Homo sapiens: one gene and its partners. The gene in region 3 interacts genetically with the main gene of each other region. Each region holds a gene or a part of one and is shown on either strand. Other genes may lie near its edges. The genes, in order: KEAP1, RB1 and STAC2.

What was found.
Region 1: changes in STAC2 (region 3) and KEAP1 together harm fitness more than expected from each alone (negative genetic interaction), as found in Homo sapiens cells (one large-scale study listed by BioGRID).
Region 2: changes in STAC2 (region 3) and RB1 together harm fitness more than expected from each alone (negative genetic interaction), as found in Homo sapiens cells (one large-scale study listed by BioGRID).

Annotation. Positions count from the first base shown.
Region 1 is NC_000019.10:10,486,211-10,489,857, reverse strand, and holds part of KEAP1 (kelch-like ECH-associated protein 1), read left to right. Parts: intron 1-4; coding exon 5-210; intron 211-489; coding exon 490-666; intron 667-3,039; coding exon 3,040-3,206; 3' UTR 3,207-3,647. UniProt on the Homo sapiens protein: Substrate-specific adapter of a BCR (BTB-CUL3-RBX1) E3 ubiquitin ligase complex that regulates the response to oxidative stress by targeting NFE2L2/NRF2 for ubiquitination.
Region 2 is NC_000013.11:48,380,251-48,383,897, reverse strand, and holds part of RB1 (retinoblastoma-associated protein), read right to left. Parts: intron 2,652-3,647; coding exon 2,455-2,651; coding exon of another isoform or gene 2,443-2,454; exon of another isoform or gene 1-2,442. UniProt on the Homo sapiens protein: Tumor suppressor that is a key regulator of the G1/S transition of the cell cycle. The hypophosphorylated form binds transcription regulators of the E2F family, preventing transcription of E2F-responsive genes.
Region 3 is NC_000017.11:39,223,008-39,227,121, forward strand, and holds the start of STAC2 (SH3 and cysteine-rich domain-containing protein 2), read right to left. Parts: upstream 2,939-4,114; 5' UTR 2,496-2,938; coding exon 2,406-2,495; intron 1-2,405. UniProt on the Homo sapiens protein: Plays a redundant role in promoting the expression of calcium channel CACNA1S at the cell membrane, and thereby contributes to increased channel activity. Slows down the inactivation rate of the calcium channel CACNA1C.

The DNA of each region.
Region 1 (3,647 bases), on a different chromosome or scaffold from region 3:
GCAGGTATGAGCCAGAGCGGGATGAGTGGCACTTGGTGGCCCCAATGCTGACACGAAGGATCGGGGTGGGCGTGGCTGTCCTCAATCGTCTCCTTTATGCCGTGGGGGGCTTTGACGGGACAAACCGCCTTAATTCAGCTGAGTGTTACTACCCAGAGAGGAACGAGTGGCGAATGATCACAGCAATGAACACCATCCGAAGCGGGGCAGGTGGGTGGGGACGGTAGGGAGGGGAGCACCCAGGAACACCCCCTACCATCCTGGGGTGAAACTGAGCCAGGCCTGGGAGAGACCCCCTGTTGCAACCCTCATGCTGGGGTAACCACAGAAGCCCTGGATTCTGATAGAGTCCAAGCTTCTCTCTCTCCCCGCTTCATTTCTGAGGGTGAGAAGGGAGAGGAGAGAGGAAAGGTCTCCCTCAAGGAGGTGATGGCTGGGGTTCCCAAAGCCAGACCCCCAGAGTCACCTTCTCTGCATGGTGCCCTTTAGGCGTCTGCGTCCTGCACAACTGTATCTATGCTGCTGGGGGCTATGATGGTCAGGACCAGCTGAACAGCGTGGAGCGCTACGATGTGGAAACAGAGACGTGGACTTTCGTAGCCCCCATGAAGCACCGGCGAAGTGCCCTGGGGATCACTGTCCACCAGGGGAGAATCTACGTCCTTGGTGAGGCCCTGGGGGCGGGGAAGAGTCCTGACTAGCCCATCTTTTGTGGACTGCTTTTGCTTTTGCTTTCCTTTTTTTTTTTTTTTTTTTTTTTTTTAGAAACAAGGTCTCGCTCTGTTGCCCAGCTGGAGTGCAGTGGTGTGATCACAGCTCGCTGGAGCCTCAACAGCCTGGGCTCCAGCCATCCTCCTGCCTCAGCCTCCCAAGTAGCAGGGACCACAGGCGCGCACCACCACACCCGGCTAATGTTTTTTTTCTTTTGAGATGGTGTCTCACAGTGTTGCCCAGGCTGGAGTGCAATGGCATGATCTCAGCTCACTGCAACCTCCACCTCCTGGGTTCAAGCGATTCTCCTGTCTCAGCCTCCTGAGTAGCTGCGACTACAGGCACATGCCACCACACCAGGCTAATTTTTTGTATTTTAGTAGAGACAGGGTTTCACCATGTTGGCCAGGATGGTCTCGAACTCCTGACCTCGTGATCCACCTGCCTCGGCCTCCCAAAGTGCTAGGATTAGAGGCATGAGCCACCGCGCCCGGCCTGTTTTGTTTTTTGTTTTGTTTTGTTTTGTTTTGTTTTTTGAGACAGAGTCTCAGTCTGTTGCCAGGCTGGAGTGCAATGGCACGATCTCAGCTCACTGCAACCTCCGCCTCCTGGTTTCAAGTGATTCTCCCCCATCAGCCTCCCAAGTAGCTGAGATTACAGGCGCCTGCCACTATGCCCAGCTAATTTTTGTATTTTAGTAGAGATGGGGTTTCACCATGTTGGTCAGGCTGGTCTTGAACGCCTGACCTCAGGTGATCTGCCCACCTCAGCCTCCCAAAGTGCTGGGATTACAGGTGTGAGCCACCGCGCCCAGCTTAATGTTTTTGTTTATTTTTATTTTATTTTATTTTATTTTTTTGAGACAGAGTTTTGCTCATGTTGCCCAGGCTGGAGTGCAATGGCGCAATCTTGGCTCACTGCAACCTCTGCTTCCCAGGTTCAAGTGATTCTCCTGTCTCAGCCTCCTGAGTAGCTGGGAATACAGGCACGTGCCACCACGCCTAGCTAATTTTTTTTTGAGATGGAGTTTCACTTTCGTTGCCCATGCTGGAGTGCAATGGCTCGATCTCGGCTCACTGCAACCTCCACCTGGCAGGTTCAAGCGATTTTCCTCCCTCAGCCTCCCGAGTAGCTGAGGTTACAGGCATGCGCCACCACGCCCGGCTAATTTTGTATTTTTAGTAGAGAAGGGTTTTCTCCATGTTGGTCAGGCTGGTCTCGAACTCCTGACCTCAGGTGATCTGCCCGCCTCGGCCTCCCAGAGGGATGGGATTACAGGTGTGAGCCACCATGCCCGGCCAATTTTGATTTTTAGTAGAGACGGGGTTTCACAATGTTAGCCAGGCTGGTCTTGAACTCCTGACCTCAGGTGATCCACCTGCCTCAGCCTCCGAAAGTCCTGGGATTACAGGCATGAGCCACTGTGCCCGGCCTTTATTTTATTTTATTTTTATTTTTTTATTTTTTGTTTATTTATTTATTTATTTATTTTGAGGTGGAGTCTTGCTCTGTCACCAGGCTGGAGTGCAGTGGCACAATCTCAGCTCACTGCAACCTCCGCCTCCCGGGTTCAAGCGATTCTCCTACCTCAGTCTCCCAGGTAGCTGAGATTACAGGCGTGCATCACCAATCGCATCTAATTTTGTATTTTTAGTAGATACAGGGTTTCACTCTGTTGGCGAGGCTGGCCTCGAACTCCTGATCTCAGGTGATCTGCCCGCCTCGGCCTCCCAAAGTGCTGGGATTGCAGGCATGAGCCACCGCGAGTGGCCTATTTTCCTATTTTTATTTATTTATTTTGAGATAGGGTCTCACTCTGTTGCCTAGGCTAGAGTACAGTGGTGCAGCCTCTGCTCACTGCAACCTCTGCCTCCCAGACTCAACTGATCCTCCCCACCTCAGCCTCCCTAATAGCTAGGACTACAGGCGCGCACCACCAAGCCTGGCTAAATTTTTATGTTTTTTTGTAGAGATGGGGCTTCACCATGTTGCCCAGGCTGGTCTCAAACTCCTGGACTCAAGTGATCCACCCACCTCAGTCTCCCAAAGTGCTGGGATTATAGGCGTGAGCTACCAAGCCTGGCCATTTTTTTTTTTTTTTTTTTTTTTTAGTAAGAGACTAAGGTTTTGCTATGTTGCCCAGGCTGGCTTCGAACTCCTGGCCTCAAGCAATCCTCCTGCCTCAGCCCTGCAAAGTGCTAGGATTATAGGCGTGAGCCACCACGCCCGGCCTGCTTTTGCATCTCACAGCTGCATCTCTCTCTTTCTGTCCCCTGCTCTTGGATGTGGTGTGACAGGTGGTGACCATCCCTTCTGTTCTTCCCGCAGGAGGCTATGATGGTCACACGTTCCTGGACAGTGTGGAGTGTTACGACCCAGATACAGACACCTGGAGCGAGGTGACCCGAATGACATCGGGCCGGAGTGGGGTGGGCGTGGCTGTCACCATGGAGCCCTGCCGGAAGCAGATTGACCAGCAGAACTGTACCTGTTGAGGCACTTTTGTTTCTTGGGCAAAAATACAGTCCAATGGGGAGTATCATTGTTTTTGTACAAAAACCGGGACTAAAAGAAAAGACAGCACTGCAAATAACCCATCTTCCGGGAAGGGAGGCCAGGATGCCTCAGTGTTAAAATGACATCTCAAAAGAAGTCCAAAGCGGGAATCATGTGCCCCTCAGCGGAGCCCCGGGAGTGTCCAAGACAGCCTGGCTGGGAAAGGGGGTGTGGAAAGAGCAGGCTTCCAGGAGAGAGGCCCCCAAACCCTCTGGCCGGGTAATAGGCCTGGGTCCCACTCACCCATGCCGGCAGCTGTCACCATGTGATTTATTCTTGGATACCTGGGAGGGGGCCAATGGGGGCCTCAGGGGGAGGCCCCCTCTGGAAATGTGGTTCCCAGGGATGGGCCTGTACATAGAAGCCACCGGATGGCACTT
Region 2 (3,647 bases), on a different chromosome or scaffold from region 3:
AAATAACAATAGTCACTTTCAGATGATACAGGAATATCTCAATATCAATTTCTGGGAGGAGAGGACACATAAGCCTTTAAAAAGTACTCTATGTGCTTATTTTATTTACTTATCTATTTATTTTTACTTTCACTTAATTACCCAGATTCAGAAAGTTTTCTTCTAAGTACTCCTTATCAAGTGTAAATTCATTCCATAAGTAGTTATGAAATTCAATAATAGGAGTGTAACATTCTTCTATCAATTTCCCATGTTTCTCTCCTCTATTCACTCTGTCTATATGGCAATACAAGAAAACACTAAGAAATAAATTATCGCTTAGTCATTAAAAATTCAAAACGTAAGGAAATTAAAACTAAGGTTACATGTGCAAATTAGGATTATGGCATACCTAAAGTCTTAATTTTTTAATTACCACTTCTATATACTGATACAAATTAAAAGATATATACTTAGCATGCAACACAGTTTCAAAAGAAACCATTAATTTACAAAACTGATGATTCACAAAGTATTATCCAACTATGTTGATTTGAAGAGCATAACCTCAAGTTGCCACTTTTATTAAAACAAAAGCCTTATCAATAGTTATAATGCTATAAAGAGAATCCTAGACAATATAATTTGTGCCCCTATATTGATTGAACCAATACCTATAATTGAACAATAGTATACATTTTTATACTTTAATAATGGGAAAAAATGAATCCTACTATATTTAACAAGAAAAAAATGCACTTTTTAATAATCTAAATAGCATAATCTCACAATTTAAGAGCAGACATTTGCATTTTCAAATATATAACAACTGTACTTTAAATAAATTATCTAAATACTTTAAAGAATTCTGTTTTGGTTTAGAACAGGGCCCTCAGAAATAATACCACACATCTACAACCATCTGATCTTTGACAAACCTGACAAAAACAAGAAATGGAGAAAGGATTCCCTATTTAATAAATGGTGCTGGGAAAACTGGCCAGCCATATGTAGAAAGCTGAAACTGGATCCCTTCCTTACACCTTGTACAAAAATTAATTCAAGATGGATTAAAGACTTAAATGTTAGACCTAAAACCATAAAAACCCTAGAAGAAAACCTAGGCAATACCATTCAGGACATCGGCATGGGCAAGGACTTCATGACTAAAACACCAAAAGCAATAGCAACAAAAGCCAAAATTGACAAATGGGATCTAATTAAACTAAAGAGCTTCTGCACAGCAAAAGAAACTACGATCAGAGTGAACAGGCAACCTACAGAATGGGAGAAAACTTTTACAATCTACCCATCTGACAAAGGGCTAATATCCAGAATCTACAAAGAACTCAAACAAATTTACAAGAAAAAATCAACCCCATCAAAAAGTGGGTGAAAGATATGAACAGACACTTCTCAAAAGAAGACATTTATGCAGCCAAAAGACACATGAAAAAATGCTCATCATCACTGGCCATCAGAGAAATGCAAATCAAAACCACAATGAAATACCATCTCACACCAGTTAGAATGGCGATCATTAAAAAGTCAGGAAACAACAGATGCTGGAGAGGATGTGAAGAAATAGGAACACTTTTACACTGTTGGTGGGACTGTAAACTAGTTCAACAGTGTGGCGATTCCTCAAGGATCTAAAACCAAAAATAGCATTTGACCCAGCCATCTCATTACTGGGTATATACCCAAAGGATTATAAATCATGCTGCTATAAAGACACATGCACACGTATGTTTATTGTGGCACTATTCACAATAGCAAAGACTTGGAAGCAACCCAAATGTCCAACAATAATAGACTGGAGTAAGAAAATGTGGCACATATATACCATGGAATATGTGGCACATATATACTATGCAGCCATAAAAAAGGATGAGTTCATGTCCTTTGTAGGGACATGGATGAAGCTGGAAACCATCATTCTGAGCAAACTATTGCCAAGACAGAAAACCAAACACTGCATGTTCTCACTCATAGGTGGGAAATGAACAATGAGAACACGTGGACACAGGGTGGGGAACATCACACACTGGGGCCTGTCATGGGGTAGGGAGAGGAGGGAGGGATAGCATTAGGAGATATATCTAATGTAAATGACAAGTTAATGGGTGCAGCACACCAATATGGCACATGTATACATATGTAACAAACCTGCACGTTGTGCACATGTACCCTAGAACTTAAAGTATAAAAAAAAAATCCGTTTTGTTTTAAAGTGGCATGTTTTAAGAAAAGCTATTCTTAAATAAATCACTGTGCTGTATTAGATGGTTTAGGGTGCTCGATTAAAGCTCCATTCTAATATTCCACTTGATCCTTGGGCTATAGACTGAAATAACATTATTCATTAAATTCCCTATATGTTCTTGAGGTAGATGTTAAGAAACACCTCTCACTAACAATAATTTGTTAGCCATATGCACATGAATGAATTTCTTCAATTATTTAGCTACTTACTGAGAGCCATGCAAGGGATTCCATGATTCGATGTTCACATCGTTCTAAATGTTTTATCATTTCTCTTGTCAAGTTGCCTTCTGCTTTGATAAAACTTTCGATCACTTTGTAAAAATCAAAGGCTTTTAAATTAAGCACATTCAGAATCCATGGGAAAGACAAATCTGTTCCAGAATCAAGATTCTGAGATGTACTTCCTAAAAATGAAAAAAAAAAGTAACTATTTATGAAATATTAACCCTTGAGCTAGGTATTTTTTTGGAAGTTATTATCAGACAAAGAAAACAGTAGAAAGGTTAAACCATTTTTATTTAGAGCAGAATTTTTTATTTTGGAGTCTACGGACTCATAGGAAATAGCCTTCCAATTTTGAGTGTAAGCAAATCTGTGTTTTTCCTAGAGAAAGGACTTATAGCTGATCTCAAATTTTCAAAGATTTAAATACCCTAAACTTATATCAGGAACAGGTTTAGTATCTTATCAGCCATTGGCATATCTATTTTAATTCTCATTAATCCTTGGTAAGAGGATAGACAGATTCTTCAAGATTCTGCTAATTTCATTAGTTACAAAATGGTATCTCATTAAAATATGCATTTCTTGGTTATAAATGAGGATTCACAGTTTTCCTTATCTGTTTACTAATAAGGAAACTAAAAGTTCCTCTTTTTCTGTGTTTTGCATCCTTATACAAATGTTCCTTTTGTTTCTGCAAGCAAAACTTTCTTTTAACATTTGCAACATAATTTGCAAAGTGATATACATTTATGTTTTTAAAAACATTGTAATTGGCCTTTGTTCTGTTTATCCAGTGGATTCTAGCTTCAATCTTTAGTTTCATAACCATGGAGGTTACAGCAGTGCTTCCATATCAGTAGAGGCCACTCTTGAATACTCCTTTGGCACTCTACAATCTCAAAGGTCTTCGGAGGGATTTCAAAAAGTACCTTTTTTGGATTCAGTATACCAGTATACTCAGAAGAGAAGCCTAGTGAAATATTATCCCCAAGATGGCCTCAAATAACTCAAATAAGCCTCTTAAATGGCTTATAATGACCAATTACATTCTTCAGTATATAGTGATCTAAAATAAGCATTCCTTCTCCTTAACCTCACACTATCCCTCTCCCCCGACCAAAGAAACACACCACATTTTAACTTTAAATTGAACAAAAGTGTTTATTTATGAAAAT
Region 3 (4,114 bases):
GAGACCAAGAGAGGAGGAGGACTCGCTAGGAAGGTTGCTGGGTGGCTTGGGTGCAGGGCTGATTCAGCCTGGGGGCAAGCAGGAGGCTGGCCAGTGATTCCCAGGGGGCACCAACACTGATGAATAAGCCTGGAATGTTGGCATCACTGCCTGAAGGGCATTGGCCCCCTCTGTTGTACCTGCCTCACACTGAGCTTGGTGGGCGGCACCCAACTGTACTCTTCCATCTCCACCCACAGTCTGGAGACAGGAGCTTCTTTGGGCCAGGTTGAGGTGCAGGATGGAAGGAGGCTAGCAGGGGTCCTGAGTTCTCTCTCTGCCCACCTCTGCCCTGCTGAATACCCCCGACCCAACCCACAGCCCAGTCTGTGTTAGTGCAGAATCCTTCACAAGAGTGATGTATAGGGGAGGGGCGGAGGGCCGGGGCTCCAGCTGGCCTGACACAGAAGGGCCGGATCAGGGGTGTAACCCCTCCCCTCCCCTACTCCTTGAATCTCCAAGCTCAGACCCAGAGGTGACAACATTGGAGGGTCCCTGGCCTGGGAAGAGGGAGAGGTACAGACCTGTGGCCCTTGACCTTCCCTCCCCACACAGCTGAGCAGGCAGCTTGCTGGAGTACTGAGGCAGCACTACCCCACACTCCTGCCCGCCTTCCAGCACTCCCACATAGGAGGAGGCTGGAGAGGACAGGCCTTGGTGTGGGAAACAGGGCAGGGCCTGGGAGGCCCCCAAGCCCCTGGAGGCAAGCAGGGGGACTGTGTATGTCTACCCAGGTGACTAGAGGGCAACCGAAATCAGGGGCATTGGAACTCAGGGGAGGTTCAGCTCCTAGACCTTCTGCTTGACAGAAGTTGTCACAAATATTCCAAGCAATATCCTCCCACCCAAACATCTTAGTCCTTTCCCAGGAGAGACTGAGACTTGGCTCTCTAAAGGGGAGTCAGCTCTGGCCTCACAGACCAGAGTCTCATTTTTAGAAGGGGGCAAGAGAGAGTCAGGTGTGCATGTGAAGACTTGAATGTGGAGACCTGCTGGGTCCCCTGGTGCAGGATGGGGGCTCCCTGGGGTGCCTCTGCCAGACTCCACCCTGACCCTACGGCCTCCTCCTCCGGTCACTCCCTTGATGACCTTGACCTTGAATTAACCTCAGCTCCTGCGGGATGGTCAAGATGGAAGAAGGAGGAAGGGGGACAGTGGAAAGAAGCCTAGCGAACCCAGGACGCCTCCGGAGCCCAGGCTCCCATCATTTCTGGTCCTCACTGTCCCCTTTCGCCTCTGGAGAACAGGAGCAGGATGGGAACAAAATACCGGGTGAAGGGGGAGGGAGGAGGTCTTGGCCTGAAGTCTGGGAGGTGGCAGGGCGCGCCCTTGGCACAGCCCTTTCTATCCCAACCCCAGGCCCGCTCAGGTTGATCCCGCAGAAACAGAACTTCTCGCGGGCCAGTCGCCAGCACCTAGAACTTGGGAAGGGAGCAGACGGATTAGAGGTCGGGGGAGTGCTGAGTGTGAGCGGCGGCCTCCCCACACCCCTTTCAGCGCCAGGAGTCTGGGCTCCGCCTGCCTTCGCGGGGAGTAATTTATTCATGGTGACTCCCTCAGGAGTAACAATCATCCATAATTAGGGTTAATGATGACATTCATTAATTACGATGACTTCTCTTTTTGCTTCTACCCGCTCCCCCTCCTCTGGTCCCGCTCCCGTGGTGGGGCGCGGGGCTGCCTGTCTTTCTGGTCTGGAGCCACAACCGCAGGCCCCCGTCCTCGCCCGTGACCGACGGCCGGCGCTGCTGCAGGCCCCCTCGCGGACTCCGCAGCTGCGCACCCCCGGCCGCGGCCTCGCGTCCCCGAGCCCAACAGGGCTAGGAGCGGGGAATGCAGGACTGCGGAGGGGCAGGGAGAGACGCCCTGAGACGCGGAGATAAACACCCGGAGACGCCGGGAGAGACGGGGAGAGACGCACACAGAGACACCAAGACACAGACACGCAGGTTGTAGAGACAAATTCAGAGACACGAGCGAGGATAGAGGCGCGGACTGAGCCCGGGACTGGGACCCGGCGGCCGCTGGAGGGTGCGCCTCGCACGCACAGCCGGGCGCGTACCCCGCCCGCACCGCTCCACGCGCGCCCTCCGGCCTCGCTGCGCCCATCTCTCCAACGAAGACCAGTGGCCGCCTCCCCAGAAGGTCGCGATGGCGCGCGCGGGCGTGCGGTGCCGGTGTGATCGGGGGCTCCTTGTGGCCCCTCGTCGCCAACCCACTCCTACCCCCGGGAGCGGCGCGGAGCCTCAGTGGTCACGCGGGCCTCGCGACCGCGACCCTAGGACGCCCGGGCCCACAGGAGGACCCCGCCGGGAAGAGGGCGCCCGGGCCCGGGGCGCGGACAGGCCTTGCGCCCCCCAAGTTACCTTGGTTTCCTGGAGGGCGGAGACGGTCCCTGGGGGGCTGTGGGTGGCCGCGTCATCCGGTTCGTTCTCCTTCTCGCTCATCTCGGTCATGGTTCGGGGAGAGGGGAGGAGAGGGTGCCGAGATCCGACGGCAGGCCCACCGCGGGCAGGCTGCGGGTGGCGGGCGTCTCCGGGACTCTGAAGCCGTTCTCCAGAGGCTGCCCCCAGTTAGCCCCCGGCACGGCAGCCCCCAACCCGCGGGAGCGGGCAGAGAAAGTTGCCGGGGTGGCGGGCGAGGGGAGGCCACCACGCTGAGCCGCAGGAGCGGGACGACCCCGGGCGCGAGGACCGAGGGTCTGCAGAGGATGCTGCTCGCAGCGCGGGGAGGAGGGAAGTGGGGCCGCGGGGATGAGCCGAGGGAGGGAGCCAAGGAGCTGTCCGTGTCCAGCCGGCTCCGCCGTCCGCTGCGCCCGCCCCCCATCCCCTCCCCTCCCCCGCCGGCCCCAGCCCGGCACCCGGCGGCCCCTCCGCCCAGTCCTCGCCGCCCAACTTTGATTTAGGAGGTCGCCTGGTCCCGCCCCCTGCCCTACGCCGCTCCCCCGCGCAGCCCTGCAAATCAGGCTCTCAGCTATTGGCTGCCTCGGTGGCCAGGAGGGCGAACTGGGCGGAGTCTTGGGGGGCTCGACACGATGGGGCGGGGCTTGGCGGGGAAAGAAGCGGAGGAGGGAGTTTCACACTGAAAAACCCGGGATGGAGGGGCGTGACCAGATTGAGGGAAGCTTGGGGAGATCATAGTAGCGTCTGGATGGGTTGCAGGGAATAGAAATAGGTTGGGGCCGCAGCAAGATAGCGGAGAGTGAGATCGAAGCTAGGACTTCCAAAGAGCGAAGATTGATAGATGCCAGAGGTTGGTGAAGGAAGAATGGGGACCCATCTGTGCCATTAATTGGATGCCTTTATACCCTGAAAAGGCTCTCTCCAAATATACACACAACTGGACTATGGTGTATGTGTCAAAGGCCAGGCCGGACAATTCCTCCTTGTGATGGAAAGCCGGATGACTCTATCCCCTTCCAGTCTTGGCGTCTGAACTTCAGCAGAGATGGGGGCTCAGTCCTCACACCCAAAGTCCCCAAACTTCTCTGAGACACGCTCCCCTCCTAAAGATCCTACCACAACTGGAGTTAGATCAGGGGATAATACAGAGAGGTGGGGGAAGAGGTCCTCACCATCACCTTCCAAGGTGCCCCTCTCTCCACAATAACCTTCTATTTTTTATTTTTTTATTTTTTTATTTAGAGACAGGGTTTCACTCTTTCACCCAGGCTGGAGTGCAGTGGTGCGATCATAACTCACTGCAGTCTCAAACTCCTAGGCTCAAGCAATCCTCCCACCTCAGCCTCTCTAGTTGCTGGGACCACAGGCATACGCCACCATGCCTGGCTAATTTTTAAAATTTATTGGTAGAGACAAGTCTTGCTATGTTACACAGGATGATCTCCAACTCCTGGGCTCAAGCGATCTTCTCACTTTGGCCTCCCAACGTATTGGGATTACAGGCGTGAGCCACTGTGCCCGTTCAAGATATTTCCAATATTTCTTCTTCTCCTTCTCTTCTTCTTCTTTTTTTTTTTTTTTTTTTTTTTTTTTTTTTGGAGACAGGATCTTGCTCTATTGGCCAGGCTGTAGTGCAGTGGCTTGATCACACCTCACTGTAGCCTGGACCTCCT